Homo sapiens: one gene and its partner. The protein of the gene in region 1 binds, or shares a complex with, the protein of each later gene. Each region holds a gene or a part of one and is shown on either strand. Other genes may lie near its edges.

Evidence for each region.
Region 2: AKAP13 (region 1) and MAP2K3 share a complex: the UniProt entries of both Homo sapiens proteins name them as parts of the signaling complex.

The regions. Positions count from the first base shown.
Region 1 is NC_000015.10:85,739,395-85,749,224, forward strand, and holds part of AKAP13 (A-kinase anchor protein 13), read left to right. Parts: intron 1-827; coding exon 828-878; intron 879-1,651; coding exon 1,652-2,101; intron 2,102-4,097; coding exon 4,098-4,431; intron 4,432-5,233; coding exon 5,234-5,283; 3' UTR 5,284-9,830. UniProt on the Homo sapiens protein: Scaffold protein that plays an important role in assembling signaling complexes downstream of several types of G protein-coupled receptors.
Region 2 is NC_000017.11:21,279,288-21,289,703, forward strand, and holds the start of MAP2K3 (dual specificity mitogen-activated protein kinase kinase 3), read left to right. Parts: upstream 1-5,423; 5' UTR 5,424-5,633; coding exon 5,634-5,682; coding exon of another isoform or gene 5,683-6,039; intron 6,040-8,748; exon of another isoform or gene 8,749-8,804; intron 8,805-10,416. UniProt on the Homo sapiens protein: Dual specificity kinase. Is activated by cytokines and environmental stress in vivo. Catalyzes the concomitant phosphorylation of a threonine and a tyrosine residue in the MAP kinase p38.

The DNA of each region.
Region 1 (9,830 bases):
TGCTATTGGCCATTTATATTTCTAATGTAAATTGCTGGTTTGTGTTCCTGGCCTATTTTTCTACTAGGGTATTTTTTTTGTCATAATGTTCTATGAGAGCCTTTTTTAAATGAAAGATTTTTCCATTTGAATTTCTATTAGTTCTTTGCCTTTTAATTTTAATTTTACATTTTTACATAGAAATTTTTGAAAAAAATCTTCTGGTTTCTTCCATTACTTCTGTGTTTGCAAAGCCTTCCCTGTTTCAAGATTAGAAAACAGTTCTAGTTCCTTCCAGCTCTTTTTTTTTCTTTTTGAAATAGGATCTCGCTGTCTTGCCCTGGCTGGACATAAATATGGTTTATTTTTTGCCTTTAACATTTTCAGATATTTGAACCTTTTTTTGTGTGTGAGCTAAGATCTCAACTCAATTTTTTTCAGAAATTTAGCCAATTTTCTCAGAACAATTAATTGAATATTCTTTCCATTAATTTGAAATGCTATTTACATGCTAAATTGTTATGAGAAGTTTCTGGAATTTCTGTTCTGTTGCGTTGATATGTATGCTGTTTTTATTCTAGTCATTTTAAGTAATGGAAGCTTTCTATTACATTTTAACTTGTGCTGATGTTCCTCCTATACATAGGTCACTGTGGTCTTCGTTTGTTTTTCTTGGCTGCTGGTGCTCACTTAGTTTCTTTGGTGCTTTCAATTTGAAAATATTTCATAAAGATATAAGCATTTAGTTGTATCTTAAAGGAGCCATCTTATCAGGTAAACATTAGTGTGATGGATTCTGAGATTCATAAAGCCCTGAAACGAATGTTTCCATTTTGTTCCTTTGGCAGCAGGTTGTCCAGAGCGTTGTTCATCTCTACGAGCTCCTCAGCGCTCTGCAGGTGCGTGCCTTCATCTTCCATCCCTGCGTTTATTTGTCTAGAGAACAGCAGCTTGGGGCTGTTGTTGACTTGGATCTTTGAGGTTTGCAGGATGTTTAATGGATAAATGGGGCCCTCAGTCTAGGGAAGACTGGCTCTCGTGGTGAGAAAGTTACAGAATGCATCGACCTTCCAGGACTAGAATTAGTGAAGAGCTGGTGTGCCGTAGGCATGGCTTGATAACCATGCTACAAATCACATAGCATGCTAACATGCATCTGGGAGATTACTTCACTTTAGAAAGCCTTAAGTATGATTATAAGTTTCTATATTCCGTATCTCTGTGGTATTTGAATAGAGTGGCCTTCCTAATACAGCTTCTGTTTCGGACTTCCCAGGAACATCCTCAAATTCTGCTCACTTCCTTTCTTGAAGATCTAACCTGTCTCGTTCCTACTTTCTCCCACTTCCAACACACACACACACAACCCACCCACCCACACAGACACACACACACACAACCACCCCCCCCCCCACCCCAGGTAATACCACTGACTGCAAACAGCATGCAACCAGATTGACAAAAACCCGTGAGTTCCTGCACCTTTGAGGTTCTTGTATGATAAACAGCTGCAATTATCCTGGAGCATTTTTATGAGACGGGCTTGAAAAATGAGGGGAGAGTTCTAGTCCGTCATAGTGCCTGGTGCCCCCTGCTGTGGGGTCGGGAGGGATCCAGAAGCTCGCTGTCGTCCTGGCCAGAGTTGCAGGGCTCCCCTCTGTGTGCCTCCCAGGGTGTGGTGCTGCAGCAGGACAGCTACATTGAGGACCAGAAACTGGTGCTGAGCGAGAGGGCGCTCACTCGCAGCTTGTCCCGCCCGAGCTCCCTCATTGAGCAGGAGAAGCAGCGCAGCCTGGAGAAGCAGCGCCAGGACCTGGCCAACCTGCAGAAGCAGCAGGCCCAGTACCTCGAGGAGAAGCGCAGGCGCGAGCGTGAGTGGGAAGCTCGTGAGAGGGAGCTGCGGGAGCGGGAGGCCCTCCTGGCCCAGCGCGAGGAGGAGGTGCAGCAGGGGCAGCAGGACCTGGAAAAGGAGCGGGAGGAGCTCCAGCAGAAGAAGGGCACATACCAGTATGACCTGGAGCGACTGCGTGCTGCCCAGAAACAGCTTGAGAGGGAACAGGAGCAGCTGCGCCGGGAGGCAGAGCGGCTCAGCCAGCGGCAGACAGAACGGGACCTGTGTCAGGTAATGGGACTCCCTGCCGAGAGCAACCTAATGATGATATTAATTAAGACCCCCTGTGTATTAAGCAAGGTAAGAAAGTGAGCAGAAATATAGAGCCTGTTTTTGGCCAGATGCTCATGCCTGTGATCCCAGCACTTTAGGAGGCTGAGGTGAGAGGGTAGCTTGACCAGCCTGGGCAACAGAGGGAGACTCTGTCTCTCCTAAAAAAAAAAAAAAAAAAACAAACAAACAAACAAAAAAAAAAAACAGTTTTTAAGAATCTTTGTAGCTGGACACAATGGCTCACACCTATAAATCCCAGCACCTTGGGAGGCCGAGGCAGGTGGATCTCTTGAGGCCAGGAGTTTGAGACCAGCCTGGTCAACATGGCGAAACGGCGTCTCTACTAAAAATACAGAAATTAGCTGGGTGTGGTGGCAGGCGCCTATAATCCCAGCTGCTTGGGAGTCTGAGGCATGAGAATCGCTTGAACCGGGGAGGTGGGGATTGCAGCGAGCCGAGATCTCGCCACTGCACTCCAGCCTGAGCAACTCCGTCTCAAAAAAACACACACAGAAAAACAAAAAGAATCTTTGTTTTACCCCGAAAGAGAGGCAGAGGCAGAAAGTCTTCTTCTGCTTTTTGCATCTCTAAGAGGCTGAAAAAGAGAATGGAAGTGCTGGGGCATTTTGGCCAGGGCAGTAATGGATATTTGGAGTTGGCACTTCCCTCAGCTAGAGGAGTCTCAGTGTGTCTGAGAAAATGGCAGTCAGCCATCCAGGATTTTAGGAGCAACGCCACTGCTCTGTGCCACATCAGAAATCAGGCATGGCCCCAACCTGAAGGAACTTGTAGCTTAATGGGGAAGCACACCAAGAATAAAAGAGCCTCCAGAACATGTGGTGCCTGTGGTCCTGAGACAGCAGGAAATGGCTCTCAGGCCAGAGTTGCTGGAAGAACCCATGTGGCAGGATCGGTGGGAGGCAGTTACAGAGGGAAACGCCCATCCCAGCAACTAGGGGAGGCCGCCACTCCTCTCGTGGATGGATGATATTCTTGCTTGGGGATGTTGAGACAGCTGCACTCTGCATAGTTCCTGATTTGCCTCTCTACTGCTGATGAAAAACCTCTCTTTCTCTATAGCTGCTGCTTATATTGGAAGGCTTTTGGTTATTCAGCACACTCACTCCTGAGCTTATTTCAGTGATATTCCTTGGTTATTTCGAAACATGGATGCTTGTGGCAGATGGAGAGCCTGGGTGTACACAGATCTGCCTGTGTTTTGAAATGCATACCATGTTGCCGTTTGTTTGATTGATTGATCTTGGACCACGAAAGAAAATTATACTGACAGCTTCCAGGGTAGGGGGCAGTTGTAGCTTTCTGCAGATGTTGCCAAATATATTGGGGGTGGGGAGCAGCAAATGCCATGTGTTGCTTTTTATGACATAAGGAGGGATTCCACCCCCATCCCAATAAAATCGGTGCTTTGACAAAGGAGGGTTCCCAGGCAGCTAAGAGAACCCAGAGTAGATGATCCTCTTTATCTCTGGTTTAACCTGTGACTAGGATTCTTGGTGTAAGCTCGGCTTTTCCACTTATCCTCTAACCGGAACAGGCTTCTATAATCTCTTTGCCTTAAAATAATTATCTGCATCCCTGTGTAGAGCAATCTTAAGCAGCTCTCCTTGTTTCTTCAGGGAATGGGAATTCTTTTCTAAGTCGCCCCATCAAAGGTACTATTGGTTTTTTACAACGCCGGCGTTTGTGTATGTAGTAAAAGTATTAACAGCATTAAAGGCGATATTTTTAACATGTTTATAGATACTACTTGGGGGAGGGCAGCTAATGAAACCTTCAAGCTCTATGCAGTCCACAGACGTGAGCTCTGTAGAGTTCGCAGAGGTGGGTAAGTACCCAGCCAGCACACCCAGTTGAATTCAGCCAGGATTTATTGAGTTGGCATCACGGACGCTGACAGCCTCCAAGTGAAAACCCTTCTCTTGAATATGTACAGGTTTCCCATCCACATACCAAGCTGATGAGGATCCCATCGTTCTTCCCCAGTCCTGAGGAGCCCCCCTCGCCATCTGCACCTTCCATAGCCAAATCAGGGTCATTGGACTCAGAACTTTCAGTGTCCCCAAAAAGGAACAGCATCTCTCGGACACACAAAGATAAGGGGCCTTTTCACATACTGAGTTCAACCAGCCAGACAAACAAAGGACCAGAAGGGCAGAGCCAGGCCCCTGCGTCCACCTCTGCCTCTACCCGCCTGTTTGGGTTAACAAAGCCAAAGGAAAAGAAGGAGAAAAAAAAGAAGAACAAAACCAGCCGCTCTCAGCCCGGTGGTGAGTCACGCACACCTGCTCTCCCTGTGGCCATAGTGTCTGTGCATTCTGAGAGAGGGTAGATTTTAGTGGCATGGGGCGGGGTTGAAAAGGGGACAGTTCAGATGCTCAAAAGCCAAACTGCCATCCTTTTCACCAGCTCCGCTTGCTAAGAGCACTCATGCAGCGAACATTAAGAACCCACTCTGTGTGGCACGTGTGCAGAAGCAGAGAGCATGGGTTTCATTTTCAAGGCATTATCCGATCGAGGAACTGGAGCTCACCCCTCAATGAAGTAATTCAAGTCCTCCTTGCCTTTCTGGGCCTAGAGTAGTCATTGGTAACAGCTAGCATTTGGTGATTTAACCCTCAAATGACTGTATGAAGTTGGCACTGCTAACCCCAAGAGAAGTGAGGAAACTGAGGCTCACAGAGGCTAACTAATGTGCCAGCGGCCACAGAGCCTGCGGCTGAATTCCACTAAATGCCTCCCTGTTCATGTACCACTTTTTCCCCTGAATCCTTCTCTTTAGGATTGATCTCTCCTTTCTGTGTGGGAGGTTAAAGAAAAAGTACATTTTCCTGGCCTCTTCATAAATTCTAGTGATTATTTAAAAGTTAAAGGGAGCATTAGGCAGTGAAGGATATCACTTAAGAACCTTATTAACCAAATTTGTTCAGAAACCCCGGTGCGCAGAAGAGTTAATTGCCCATAAGCCCCAGTCGCCTGTTTGCATTACAGAAGACTTTGGGATGGGGAGGAAGTTCAATGAAAGGAGCAGTTTTTCTGAATTTTTTTCATTCTTGGTTTTCACATTTCCAGATGGTCCCGCGTCAGAAGTATCAGCAGAGGGTGAAGAGATCTTCTGCTGACCCTCTTCCTCTCTGCTGAGGCAGCTGCCTCCTGATCCTGGCCAGCCCACCTCTCCTGCTGTCCCCGCGTGCACAAGTCTCTTACACTGGACGCCCACTGCTCCTCAGCGTCCAGTCCTCCTGGGCGGCCCCAGGTCCTGGACAATAAGCAACAGATGATATTGAGTGTCGGGTGGGGAAGGAGGCCCAGACTCTGCTTCGGCCATGATTTGTGACTGCCCAGGACTCTCAGGTTGGGCTGGCCCTACTCAGGATTACACTGAAAGTAATGGCCTCGTAAGTACAGGTGATGGTTTTGGACACGTCAGGAATTCCTAAAGGCTGAAAGAGTGTATCCAAGTAAGGTCTGAACCTCCGAATGCCTTTTATTTGGGGGAACACAAAACCAAACAGCAGATGTTTTGGACTTGATCTGTGTACGTACATGGGGACCTGTCTGCATATACACACGGGGAATGCCAGAAGAAGGCCCAGTCTGCACCAGGCGTCTGGTCAACTTAGCACAAGGGCAGTGCCTGGACGGACCCGGAGCCCCCGCATATCAGCAGTTCACCCAGTACTCCTCAGAGACTGGTTTCCCTCTAAACCCATCCCGGGCACATACCACCCGTGTTTTGCATGTATTTCTCATTTCATTTTAGGGATGACAAACATTTGTGAAACCAGTGAGAGAAGGCTTGATGTGTATAAAAGACGTGATGTGCACCACCTCGATCTCGGTGTTTCAGGCACTAAAGCAACAAAACAACCCATAGTATCTCATTCTGTCATCAGATCCAGAAGAAATATCCTGGTTTTCCAGCATGTTTACCCACATGTTTTGGCCATGGATAAAGTGAAGAGGCCTACTCACCATTATCCCTGCAGCGTGACACCTTTTGATTGTCACTGACCACTCAGAAGGGGCCACGGCCTCCTGGCTGTGTTCCTGAGCCCCCGTCGTGCCTCTCCCAGACAGCAGCTGTCTGGCCCTTGCTGGGTGAGGGCACACCACTGCCAGGGGTCAGCCTCGCACCCAGGCCAGGCAGAAGCTGTGCTCTGAAGCTAGGACAGCTGGCTGAGAAGTGGGTTCAGGCGAAGGGTGAAGCCATGTGTAGCAGTTCCTGCCAGTGCAGATCTGGAGAGGAGCTGGCCCGGAAGGCGTGGTTGTGAAAGCGCCCTTCTTATGTTAGGAGGCCTTGGCAAAATTGGATTTCTTCAAAAATACATGTAAAGGTCTGTTGTTGAATTGTACTCTGCCCCTGGAAGCAGATACAGATGGCTGCCTGCTGCTCGGCTTTGCTTTTGCTTTTCCCACCGTGTTTTCATCTTTGTTCACTTGAGGCTTTCCCCAGCTGGTGTGTGCAGGACAGTTCATGGTAATGTTGCCCTCTGAGGCCCCGTACACCAGAAGGGAGGCCCTGGAAAATTTTGTGCTTCCAACGTGGCCTTCAATTCTTGCTTTTTTGCCCCTCGGAAGCATGGGGCTTTTGAGCACACTTAAAAAAAGAAAAATCTGTAACTTGGTGCTTATTGATGAATTGCAAGCTGGCCTTGCAGATGGAGATATTTATCTTTCAGTTTATTTGAAAGAGGTCTGGTTTAAAATTTGTAGCCTACATTTGTTTTATTTATTGTATTTGTGTGTTTGTGTTTGTTTTTTTTTAAGGGTGAGCCAGGTCTAGCCCAACAGTCTAAACTATCCAGTCAATACCGAGTGAAGTGGCAGCCAGCACTGTTCACTCTGTGTCTTTTGAAGTGCCTTGAAGGCCCAGATGAAATTTTAAAGGGAGGGGGTCCATGTCCTTCCCTCCCCCACCCCGCCTCATTCTTTAATCAAAGGATGTCTTCTCCCTTGTTTGAGAATGAAGAAACTCGCCACCTCTGACCTACCTTTGCCTTTTTCTGTCATGGAGAATACTCACCCTTCAGAAACAGACCAAAGGCCAAAACCTGCTGATTTTTCTATTGAAAATATGTCCCCTTGCAAAGACCCTAAACAAAAAGTTAAGTTTCTTTCTTTCACCTATTTGTACAACTCCAAGTTACAGCTGAATCTGTCGTGACTTTCCTGAGATCTACCCGGGGCTTGGCTGTCTGTTCTGGGCACTGGCTCCGAGTTCCCCTCCTGGGATTTGCAGGAGGGCAGTACTGAACCTGCATTCTTCTCCTTGTAAATGTAGGCCGGGTGCCCCTGTTCTCCGGGTTTGGAACAATACGAGGTTGGTGCTGATGGGATTTACTTGCGTACGTGCTCTTCACAAAAACACCGTGGATGCTGAAGTTAGAGCACGTCGCCACAGAGCTTGACATCAATGTTAGAGGGTCTCTTACTCCCCGCCCAGCTGTGATGTTTCATCTGCTTTGGTTGTTTTGGTGGTCTTTTTTAAAAATAGAGATTTCACATCTGCCCAGACCCCACTCAAAACGATTTGGTCAGGTTCTGGTTGGACAAGTTTAAAATCAAAGTAGTGCCCGGAATTCCCTCAAACCACCCAACTTCATCCAGGAATACAGTCTGCAGTGCAGCAACAGAACCGCTTACCAAGAACTGTGCTTACATACCTTTGTCATCTCTCTTCCCCCCTTGGAAGTTGTCCTCAGGGGGATTTGTTCCTGTCCTGGGGATTTACCTGGGATGGTGGCTGCCTGTGCTTTTGCTCATGGCCTTGACAGTGCTCTAGTTGCTGGATCTAATGGCCTGTCTTGGTTTCTATCACATGAGAAGGGGTTGTTTTTTTGGGGTGACTCGGACTGAATTCCCCATACTGTTTCCACGCCGGGACACCATGTTCTCCATCAAGCTAAAGAAATCACGTGCCTGAAACTGTGCTTAAGTTTTGGGGGAAAGATGGAGTTCCTATCCAGAGCCCCCAGATTTCCAGAATCGAGTGAGCTTCCTGGAAGGAGACTGCGTCTTCTCTCAATTCCAGTCATCTCAGTCGTTGTCGTTAGGTGACATGTGCACTTTAAATGCTCTCATCGGTTGGCTTCATTTTCAAGACAATCAAATGTATTGACTGTGTTTTCTTCTTAGAAAATGGAGAGGGTTAAAAACATGCAAACTGCCACTTTCAACCTTTGCCAGTATTCCCTCTACCCCCGTGAGAGCTATCTGGGGGGAAGAATCCTTACCAAGGTTTTTTTGGAAAGGTACGAATCTTAACTTTTTTCCCCTTCTGTGTCTCAGGGTAATACTATTCAGAGTCGCCCCTTTGCTCATTTTCTCCCGTATTTGTTACCTTCCTGAGGCCTCAGTATTAGTCGTGAGCACAAAGTTTTGAGACCTTTGGCGTTGTTTCTTGATGTGGGAGGGGAGGTGTTAGTGCATGCAAGGGTTGAACTAGATAGACCCTGCCTTAGTAGAGGGTGGGACTATAACCTTAGAGGCCAGAACTTGATCCAGAAGTTGCTGTCCACAGAAGTGCTTTCTATTTCATCATTTTTGTTTCTAGGGCTCTTTTTCTGTAGCCAGGTCTTCCCAAGGATTTTAGTATTTGCATTGGAGTTGAGGTTTACTCTAATGATGGTGGCCCAGCTGTGCCCAGAGGACAGCCAGGCAGGCCCTGGGAGGGAGTTTAGAAAGACAGTCCTGGTGAATGGGCTTCAAGTGGTCACAAAGAGGGTGGCTGTGAGGTGACCCCAGACACTGCAGAACGATGTGCACCCTCTGCGTTTTGGATGTCCTTGGAATGTGGGAGCCTAGAAATAACCCTGTGGATGGAATTGGGGCAGCGGCTGCTGGAGATCTGTGTGCCTTGCCTTCCTTCAGCAGGACCGTCTAGGTGCGCAGCCACCTATGGATGCGTCCCAGCCAGCCCCGTCGCTCTCGTCCATCCTCAGAGACAAAGAAGAGGGCAGGGAGTTTGGGCTTGGTTTTGAACTTTCCTTTCAATGTAGCAAAGCATTCCTAGTTAACCAGAGCCTTGGAATCTACTGCCTGCTGGCCAGGCTTTAAAATGAAAAGTGTTTTAATGCTGCCATAAAAGGGAGGCGGGGGGGAGGAAGGGAAAATAAAGGCATCTTTCCAAGTACTCATCTAATTTAATTGTCAAAAGATTGATAGGCCATGAATTACTTCTCCATCTCACTAAGGGTTAAAGGCGTGCAACCCCCCACTGGCTGTGTCCCCTGCCACCGAAGTGAGTGACCTGCCCTACAACCAGGTGGGACCACCTGTGCTGCAGTCCGGAGGGGCTTCTGCAGGAAGCACTCACCCCCCACACCTTCCCCGGCCTGAGCTTCCCCTACCTTTCGTCACCACCTGAGGGCATGAGCACAGGCCATGGGGCGTGCCTGGTGAGTCTGCCTGTGGTTCAGGCTTAGCCTGTGGTCTCCTGTGTGCTGCTGCCCGCATGGGATGCGCAGGGGAGGCGTGGGGATCCGCAGGAGGGTGGTTGGGATACACCGGATACCTCTGCTCTCATTGCTTGTTTGCAAATGCTCTATGGACATTTGTGTGCTAAATCCTATTAAATAAAAAAGACGGGTTAAAACCCAGATGCTGTATATTCATTTGTAATTATGTATAAAGTGAAGCAGTTTTAAACTGTAAAGATTTTTTTCAG
Region 2 (10,416 bases), on another chromosome or scaffold:
TGAGCACCTACTGTGTGCCGGAGACACTGCAGTGACCAAAGCAAAGGCATTGCCCCCGTGCAGCTTGCATCACAGTGAGTCCATAAGATGCTGTGCTTGGAGGGACTAGCACATAGTAGGAGCTGTAAAAATAGGACTTGCTGTTTTGCTAGTGGAGCCAGTCACTTGTGTGAATTCATCTTTTGATATTTGAGAGTGATGATGATTTAAAGAAAGCAGGTGAGCCTCCGTTGAGGTTTCCTTCTCTATATTTCGACTTCAGAACCGGCCCCTGAGTAAAAGATGCTCAGGAACCACATATTGCTGCCTCCAAGCTTCTCAAGTTTTCACTTTTCCACCATCACCAGCATGGCCTGATGCTGTTCTGGGGAGAACCAGTCACAGGCCCTGCTTTCAAGCAGCAGGAGTCGTATGGGAGAGGCAGACAGGGGCGCAGCCACTGACAGGGCGGGTGAGCCATGGTGAGAGGGGCTGGGGCAGGGGCACTGGGCAGAGCAGTGTCAGGCAGGGCCTCCTGTCCCACCTTCAGAATTGGGCCTCGAAGGAGCGGAGGGAATGTGTCAGGTCGGAAGGTAGGGAAGGGCATTCCTGGCTAAGGGAACAGCCTTTGCAAAGAAAGGTTCAAAGAGGAAAGCTTGAATTCAGAGTGGCTGGACTGGGGGATGTCTGGAGAAGTCACCAGGGGTTGGAGTGTTGGAAGTTGCCCGCCTAGGGAGCCAGGGCAGGACTTAGAACTTGGCCAGCCGTGTTTGGGAAGGCTCTGGCTGCAGTGTGGAAGGCCTGGGGGCAGGCAGCACAGAGAAGAGGAGGCTGGATGGCCGTCAAAGCAGTGAGGGCAGTGGATCCTGTGCTCCTGGGCACTCTAGAGCACTGCCGGGCCCTGGTCACCAGAGGGCGCTGTGGGGCAGCAAGCAGTGGAGGCCCCAGCTGGTGGCAAGGCTATGCATAGACCATGTGCACCGCTGTGCCTGTGGGTTGTGTCTGTGGACGTGACCATGTGGTCCCTCCACATGAACGTACACACTTGTGCACCCCCTTGTGTCATGTGTGTGTGCATGTGTATTTGGGGTGTGTGGACTTGCACAGGTGTGAAGGGGCACGTGGGAGTGAGTACGTCCAAGGGGGTGTATATAGGTGAGAACAGGGACTCCTCAGCTCCCACCACCCAGCCACATCGGTCTCCTTGTTACTCGCCTACAAGCCATCCACCTCAGGGCCCTTGCACAACTGTTCCCTCTGCCTGGAATGCTTTTCCCCCGGATCTCTTTGTGGGTCCTTCCGTTAAGTCCTTTGGTCTCTGTTTATGTGGCACCTTCCAGGGAGGCTTTTCCTGACCTCCCTCCTTAAAATTATAGCCCCCATGTCCAGACACACACCCTGTCCCCTCCCCTACTTTCCCCCATAGCATTTGTAATAATTTTTTGTTTTTTGAGACAGGGTCTTGTTGCCCGCCAGGCTGGAGTGCAGTGGTATAACCTTGGCTCACTGCAGCCTTGACCTCCTGGGTTCAAGTGATCCTCCCACCTCAGCCTCCTGAGCAGCATGCCACCATACCCAGCCAACTTTTTTTTTTTTTTTTTTTTGTAGAGACGAGGTTTTGCCATGTTGCCCAGGCTGGTCTCAAACTGCTGGGCTCAAACGATCCACCTGCCTCGGCCTCCCAAACTGCTGGGACTATAAGTGTGAGCCACCATGCCTGGCCTGACATAATTTGACTTAGGCATTTTGCTTGTCTGGCTCACACACCAGGTCATACCTCCCCAGGGAGTTGTGTCCATCTTGTTCAATGTTGTGTTCTCAGTGCCAGTCACACAGTAAGTGCTCAATGAATATCTGTTGAATGAATGAAGGAGCTGCCCACATCCTGGGTTTGGGTCAGCCTCTCTCTTTTTTTTCCCCCATCATCAGTATTTATTGAGCATTTACAGTGTACTAGGCACAATAGAACATACAGAAAACATTTCCCTGCCCTTGAGGAGCTTACATTTTAAAAGAAAAAATACACCTCTTTTAAAATGGCATTTTTGTTTGGTGTTTTCTGCAAAGTACCGAGGAAATATTTTGTAAAGTGATGCTTTGGGTATAACTTAGCCCCATCATTATTTAAAGAATAGAGGAAGAAGAAAGAGGAAGGATTTTAAAGGCAGACAATGACAGACCATTCAGGATAGGTAGGGTTTTAAAGGGAGATAAACACAATCTCATCGACTAAGGAGAGATTTGCTGTAGTAAATAGGATGAGGGAAATAGTCTGTGGGATGCAAGCAAAGGAAGCAGGGTGCCTTAGACATTGATTGGAGCCAGAAAGATCATGCGGCCTTTTTCCAAGTACATGGCCACCAAGTAGGAATGGTTGGTGACAAGACAGAAGGCTAAAAAAGGAAGGTAATCTTGTGCACCTGACAAATAGAAAGAATAAAGGATCAAAATCGAAGGCAGGCTACAATAGTATCAAGAAATTCTTAAAAACCAAAAAGTGATTTGGAAGCACAAAACTTATAGTTAATGCTATTGAGTCAGCCTCTCTTTACAGCCTTCTGTCACCCCAGGTCCTGCCCACCTCAGATCATGCTTGCATCCTGACTTTGGCCACAATCCTTCCCATCCAGAGACTCAGTTTCCTGCATCCACAGAGAGCAGGTTTGGGACTTTTCTCCTAGGAATCAAGGTAAGAGGCAGCCTCTTGTGACCCATGTCAAACATTTATTCTGCTTTCTGCATGGTCATGGAGTTCCCCAATCTGACTGTGCCACTTACAGACAGAAAGAAATCAAGAGATGTCACTATAGCAAGCCAGCAAGAGACCTTTGTCTCTGATGGTTCTTGATGGTACTTCTTGAGCTCCAGTGGTGCAGCTGTGCATCCCAGTCTGGCCCTCACCTGGTCCTCATGTGTGGCCCTTTTTACATCTCCAACCCATTGCCTCTGCTGTTCCTTTCCAGGGATGCTCTTCTTGCTTCTCTGCCTGGTAAGCTCCTACTGGTCCTTAAAAGTCCAGTCTCAAAATCACCTCCTCTGAGAGGCCTTCCTTGTCCCCACCCAGATGGAGATGGCTGCATCACCCAGGCACCCTCCTGGGACTTTTGCTCATGCATCTATTTATAGCACTCACATGGAGTTTTGTGATTCCTGAGCTGTTTATCGGGCTCCTGACTAATCCCCAAACTCCTTGTATGCGAGGGCCTGTCTGAGTCATCTGGCCGCCAAGGAGGTTGGCACGGGACTGGAGTCGCTTCACCCTGGTCTGTGGATGCTTTCCTCCTTCCTTTTTTCATTCCTCAAATATTTATCAGGCACCTACTATGTGCCTGGTTCTGGGCTATGCATTGGGAACACAGCAGGGAATGAGGCTCGGATGGTCTGGAGGGAGAGCTGTGTTAAAAACTGAGTCAGTAACAAAGACATCAGCAGCATAAGTGTTGTGCCTCAGTCTGGGGACCATGATGAGAAGGCCTCTTAGGGGTGTTCATTTAGGAAGCGGTCTGAGGGATGAGAGGGAACCAGCCCCAGGAGGCTTGAGTGGAAGAATGTTCTGGGCAGGAGCAGCAAGGGTGAAGCTGCTGCGGCAGGACCATCCCTGGCACATTTGAGGGGCAATACTGAGACTCTTGAACATCCCAAGAAGCAGAGTGCACAAGGCGGAGTGTGGCCTTGTGCAGAAGTCAAGGCTGTTGGCCAGTGCCTGAACCCAGAAAACTCGCTGGACTAGCCTTGCAGTTCTGGTAGAAAGGAAGCTGCTCCTGGATGCCCATTTTACAGACGGATAAGCACAGGTCACCAGGGATGATATGGCAAGGATGGAGGCAGCCCACAGTGTTTTCAAACTCACATTTCCTGGGCACCTAGTGAGTGCCAAGCCCTAGGCCAGGTGTTTCCACTCCTGAACTCATGAAACGCTTTCAGAGACCTTATTGTCCCCATGGGATAGGTAAACTGAGGCACAGAGCTGCTCAGTGACTTCTTTAAGGTCATCCAGCTAGTAAGTGGAGGAATTGGTATTGGAACCCATACCTATCTGAGCCCCAGACTCATGATTTTCCATCCCACTGCCTGGGAAGGGTGAACAGGAGACGCAGGAAGAGAATGGTGATGGCTGCAAGGCTTCCCTCTTATCTCCTGTGGCTCCCCACTCTGTGCATGGGGCCCTGCATCACCCCCACTTTACACCTGGGCAAGCAGAGGTCAGGCCCGGCCTCAAGCCTTTCTAGCAGGTGGTGGAATCTGCTTCCCTCACGTGAGGTCCCTGACAGGGTACACATGTCTGCCTGGAGGCCAGGGGCTGACCCCTTGACCTTTGCCTGGTACATTCTGCCTTCACTAGCCCTGGCTTTACATCCAGAGTCATCTGTTCCCAGCGCCAGATTGGTCAGCGGTTCCTGAAATCCCCCGAGGTTCCGTGTGGGAGCAGAGGGAGGACTGGCCCATCCAGCCATTATGCAGATGGGCAGACTGAGATCCTAGGAGGAGAGGAGAGAACGAAGGTCCAGGAGAGAGCCAGGATGGGGCCTCGGGGCTCGCGGGATAAAATGCACCGCATGCCGCCTCACTCCCTCTGAGACACGGTTTCCCCCTGTGTAGAACAGGGGCAGCAGTAACCAGCCACGAAAACTCCTCGTGCTGCCTCGTCACCGGGCATCGCTGAGCTCACCACCGACCCCGCGCCCTGGCCGGGCGCCTGGAGCGCGGGCGCGGGCGACGTTTGCTGGCGCCAGGCCCTCAGTGCGTGTTAGCGAGCAGCGCCGGGAGATAGCTGTCACCGCCGCCCGCTCACAGATGCGTAGACTGAGGCTCAGGTGTCACCACCTGACCAAGGCTAGTTCCGCTACAAAGCTGCCGACTCGGATCCGAACCCGGGTCCAATTTACAGAAAAGGAAACTGAGGCCCAGAGACACTAGGGAGCTTGCTAGGGTGAGGCAGCTGCAGGTTCAGAGAGCCAGGAGGCAGCCCAGCAGCGCACTTTTAACCCCCGCCCACTTCGGCAGGCCCAGCCGTGCCACCTTTAGGGATCTCGGGTTTTTTCCAGACGACGCACCCAGGAGAACGCGCCCGCGCATCGCACCCGCCGGGGCTGCGGGTCTGGGGGTGCCGGGCTGGGCCTGGGCGCCTGCAGGGAGCAGCGGGCTCAGTGGGTCCCGGGAGTGGGTGGGGCTTGCATGTTGACGGGCAGCGCGAGGGGCGCGGCTTTAGTCCAGGGGGCGGAGCCTGACCGGACCTGGGTTTTTCGGGCGGCTGGCGGACTTGACAGAGAGCGGGAGGGGCCCGGATCCTGGGCCTAAGGAGGGTGGGGCGTGTGCTTGACAGGCAGGGACAGGCCGGCGTCTGATAGGCAGAGGACGGGCCTTGGAAACGAAAGGACCAATCGGGCACGCAGGGGCGGGGCCTGAGTCAGCGCAGTTCGGCCGGGGTCTCCCCGGCGCTGCCCAGTCTGTCTCCGGCGCCGCCCGTCGCGGACTCGTCCTTGCTGCAGTCGCCGCCGCAGTCCTCGCCGCAGTCGCCGCCGCCGCCGCCGCCGCCGCCGCTGCTCCTCCGCCTGGCCTGGGCCGTCTGCCCGCAGCCATGAGCGTGCTCGGCCCCGGTGGAGCCCGCAGTCCTCTAGATTAGTCTCCACCGCCGTCCAGGACCCACTTGCAGCATGGAGTCGCCCGCCTCGAGCCAGCCCGCCAGCATGCCCCAGTCCAAAGGTAGGCGCTCCCGGCCGGGACCTCGGCCTGACCCCGCGCCTAATCTGGGGCCGGGCTGCAAACCCCGACCTTTCTTTGGTCCCACCCCATCCTGTTCTCGACCTGGCAGCGGCGTCCGGTCCCGGAACCCCTTCCTGTTCGGGGTCCCGGGACCAGCCCCCGCCTGGGCCCTCACCTGGACCCCCACGTTAGGCCTTGGGACTGCACTCAGGCCCGAGATCACCCAGGCTGGACCCAGACTAGGACTTTGTTCTGCTCACCCCATCCAAGTCAGGAGCCTCATTCTGACCTCATTTGGGCCTTATGGCTGCAGCCTGGACATGAACTCTCCCAGTCTTCTCCCTCAGCGGGACCCAGGTGAGATTCACACTGGCCTTCACCTGGGTCCTTGGGCAGCACCCAGTCCCATTTCTAGCTTCGGGTCCCAGGGCTGTATCCAGGTTGGGATTTAACTTGAGTCTCCATCTGGGCCCCAGAGTGCTCCTGTTGTTGCGGACCTCACTGTACCCCCTATGCGGGTGCTCTGGCTACACCCCAGCTCGGAACTCCCCGTCCTTCTCTCCCCCAGCTCTTCTTATCCTTATAGGCCCTATGTTGCCCCTTCCCTGGCTGGCCTGCACCCTGTCCTGCAGCCCTGGGCTCCCAGGAACCTTCCTTGTCCTCCCACCCCTCCCTAAGGTACAGCCCCCTCTCTACCGGCCTCTCTCTGTCTTGAGTTGCAAGCTTCTCCCTGCACTGGGGGTTCTCACCCCATCTTATTCTTGTCCTGGCTGCCTGGGATCTGGGCCAGCCGCCAGGCCAGGGTGCTGGCTGTGCAAGGGATTTGCTCTTCTCCAAGTAGCTGGCCTTCCTGGAAATTTTTGTGAGGTGGCAGCAGCAGGATTTGTCATGCGGAGGGGGAAGGATGAAACTCGGAGGGCAAAAGGGGAATTTTTTTTTTTTCAGGAAGAGGAAAGGATGTTTTTGGTGCGTCGGAGTTTCAGTAGGCTGGGTTGTGCGAGAGATTTCCAAACCGGACATAGCCGTAATGAATGGGCTGCCTCCTGGCTTTCTGAACCTGCAGCTGCTTCACCCCAGCAAGCTCCCTGGTGTCTCTGGGCCTCAGTTTCCTTTTCTGTAAATTGGAAGTAATCGCACCTGCTTCTGTGGACGTGGGAGTGTGGTGTGGGGTGGTGAATAGTAAAGAGCTCTGAGGCGTTCTCTCAGCGTAGCACCTGGCGCAGAGCCGGTGCTCACCAGGGTACACTGGCTGCACACATCTCGCTATTGTTTCCATTCTTCTTGCTGGAAAGGCCTCCACTGCTGGAAGTGCAGCCTCAGAGTGAGCAGGAGGAAGCACCTAGCAGCGGGCACCTAGTGGGCACTTCATCAGGGGTCAGCCGCTCTTCTGTTCTGGAGGGTGCAGGCCAATGGGAGCCCTATGTGGGCCTGGGGAGGGCATGGGCTCTTCCTGGCCCCTGCTGCTGGCTGCTATGGTGGCTGGAGCCGGGTGGGCTGGATAATTATGCCTTACATAAGTGGGAGGCCGGATCCCTGACCATTGCCCAACCACTGTGAGTAACTCGGGAGGCACTCGACGGGGGAGGTGTCTGGGGAGGGACTTGCACTGCACAGACCTCGTGGAGCTTGGGAACCAGGAAATCAGACACTTCTCCACTCTGGAGAGCTCGGGGAAGGGTAGGAAGCACTGTTTGTTTTGGAGGCTTTTTAGCTCTCCAGGCAGAGAATGCCTCATCAAAATAAAAGTTCCAGTTGCAGAGTTGTGAAAGGAGAGGGGTCATAGATGCAGTGAGAATGCTGTGAGAGGGCCAAAATGAACTTCTAGATGTGGACCCAGGTCCTAGATGAGGTTGAGGGGGCTGGATGGAGGGTCAGGGACCTCCCTCAGGCCCAGGGACTCTGTAGTCTCTTTGGGGTCTGGGGAAGGATGTGGTGGCAGAGCCACAATGCCCTTCACCAAAAACCCTATGAGCTCCTTCTTTTTTTCCATGTGCCATGCATTTTCTCATTTATTCCTCATAGCCCCATTTACTGATAAGGAAACTGAGGCGTTAAGTGCCTTGCCTGAGGCCACACAGCTGTGACAGGCGGAGCTAGGGTTCCCCCTAGGACTGTGTTTCCACAGTGGCCTTCCCCGTGCTCCCCTATGTGCCCCTCCCATGCTGGATGCCTGAGCTGAGCTGGTGGGGTGCCCCCACCCCTGGCCTTGCTCAGAGCATGTGCAGTGGGCCTGTCCTCATGGCCACGTCAGACCTAGAGGACAGACTGAGGCAGAGGTGATGCCTCTCCTGTGCACAGCGCTTTACACTGGGCCTGTTGCATTCTCGCTGCAAAATCCCACTCATTTGACAGATGCAGAACTCAGCTTGGATGGAGGAGTGGCCGGACTGCCCCCATAGGTGGAGAGCCTCACTCTGTGCCCACCCCATCCTGGGCACTGGGCCTCCCAGCACTGATCCCTTCTCCACCTTCTCAAAGGAATTTGAACAAAGCAGGGAGTGGCTGGCGCTTGACCTTACTGGAGCTTTACCTTTGAGCTTCCTGCCTGGCAGCAGGTGCCCTGCACTGTTTCCATGCCATGGGCCTGGGGAGTTTTCTATGAGTGTGTGAGGCCCTCAGGCCCACAGCTCTGCTGGTTTTCCCCTGGCCTCCTTGCCCACATGGCCATCTCTGGCTGGGGTTAGAGGCCAAGTGGCTGGCGCTGGGGCCAGTGGGTGGGGGCATGTGTGCAAGCCACATTTGTCCTTGGAGGGTACCACACGTGTCCTGTTGTCGTTCAGAACATGGGTTCTGCCCCTTCTGCCCTAAGAGTGCCACCTGTGGGAGCACTTCATGGCTAATCTTCACACAGCTTGGACTGTGGCTGTAGGACTCCTGACTGCCCGATGGTGACACTGAGGTTTCATAGAGCACTGTTGTATCCTAGCCCTGCCTGCTGTGGCCACCCCCCCAACCCCTGGCTGTCGGAAAGACTGGAGGTGGCACCTCGGGGACTTCCCCCACCCCTCTTGTGACGCACAGGAAACTCTCTGTCAGCCAACCCATGGCCCAGCGCCCAAAGGGAGCAAAGTTCTCAGTTGGCCCGTGTGAGGAGAAGGCCGGGGCAGCGGAGGCTTCCGGCGGTGAGTCAGCGGGCACTGGGTGCTGACTCACCCGCTGGGCATGCCAGCCGGCTGCCTACAGCTTAAAGGGGCGATGCCTGCCAGCCTGGTGGGTGGGGAGGGGGTTACGTGTCCTGCAGGTGGCACCTAGCCCTGAGCTGGGGCACTGGAGGTGGCCCCTTCCTGGGCCTCGGACTGGGCTGGGAACCCCTGGGCAGGCCCTCTGTGCCCCACCCAGGAACTTCCTCTATTAGGCAAGGGGCTCTGCTTCCTCTTGCTCACAGAGCAGGAGCAGGTGGCAGTGACTGTTTACCACCCTTGGCCCAGGGGACACCTCAGGTTCAGCTGTGCAGCTGGGACTCAGGGAGGGTGAGGAGCAGAGGTGGTGCAGGGTCGGCTGGGGTGGGACCCGGCCTGAGCTCCTGGAAGATGGTGATGTGGAGAGGCTAAGACCTCAGTTTCCAGAGCCTGACTGCCTGGGTCCAAACCCCAGCTCTGTCCCTTTTGCGATGTGACGTGGGACAAGTTGCATCTGGTCCACTCTCTGCACTCTGTAAATGATTTCTGTCCCCTGGGCATGGCCCAGCTCTCAGAGGAGAAGCTTCCATTTCCTCATCTGCAGACTGAGAATGGGGACCCTGCTTGTCTGGATGTAGACAGTTCCATTCCACACTTGCTAAGTGTCAGGCACAAGTCATAGTGAGACTGCCCTCTGCCTGCAGAGAACCCAGCCGAGGCATGCCTCTGTCAGGCAGGAAGCCGGGGGTCCTGGGCTCTGCTGGGATGGCCCTGGGTTCGAATCCTGGCTCCACTACTTCCTTACCTGGGCAAGTCTTGTGCCCTCTTTAGCCCTCAGTCTCCTCTTCTGTAAAGTGGGAGTAAACATGCTCCCTTGCAGGGTAGTGGTCGAGATTGAAGATAGCATTTGTTAAGTGAATGGCACCTGTTATTATTTTATTATTGTTACTTTTGTGGGTGTAGTTCATTGGTAGGTGGATAAACAGTAGCAGGGCTTCGTGACAATGTGCTCGTAGGCGCTGTGACATGAGGCCTCTTGGCTGTAGGGTCCTTTCACGCAGGCCAGAATTTACCAGGCTTTAGGGCCTCTTAACCCACTGGTCCCCAACGTGGGGCTGGGGACTGCCCCTGGCCTCCTGGGCCTCCCTTGGGAGGGTGAGTGGGGAACAGAGAGCTGGGGCCTGCTCCTGCAGGCCTGCCCTGCCCCTGGCTTTGGCATGCAGCATTAACAGGACGAATATGGGGAAGGTGGGGTGGGACTGGGAATTAGAACTCAGGCCCCTGGGCCAGCCCGGGAAGCAAGAGGGCCTGGGGTCATGGTTCTAGGGGCTCAGTCCTGAGTCAGGGGTGTTGGGGGGTGGTGGGCCAAGCTGAGGGGAGCAACTGGGTGCCAGTGTCTTGGGAGGGTCCCAGAGGAGGGCTGCTGGGCAGCAGCATGGAGGACACAGCATTGTGGCAGGGCCCCACGACTGATGCCCACATGCCGTCCACGCCTGCCCTTGTCCGCGCCTCCTGGCGCTGCCCACCTCCATCAGGCCTGTGTGCCCAGTGGCTTCTGCAGATGCCTCCCCGAAGCAGTGGCCCTGGAAACCTCAAACAGCCTCTTGCCAGGGGC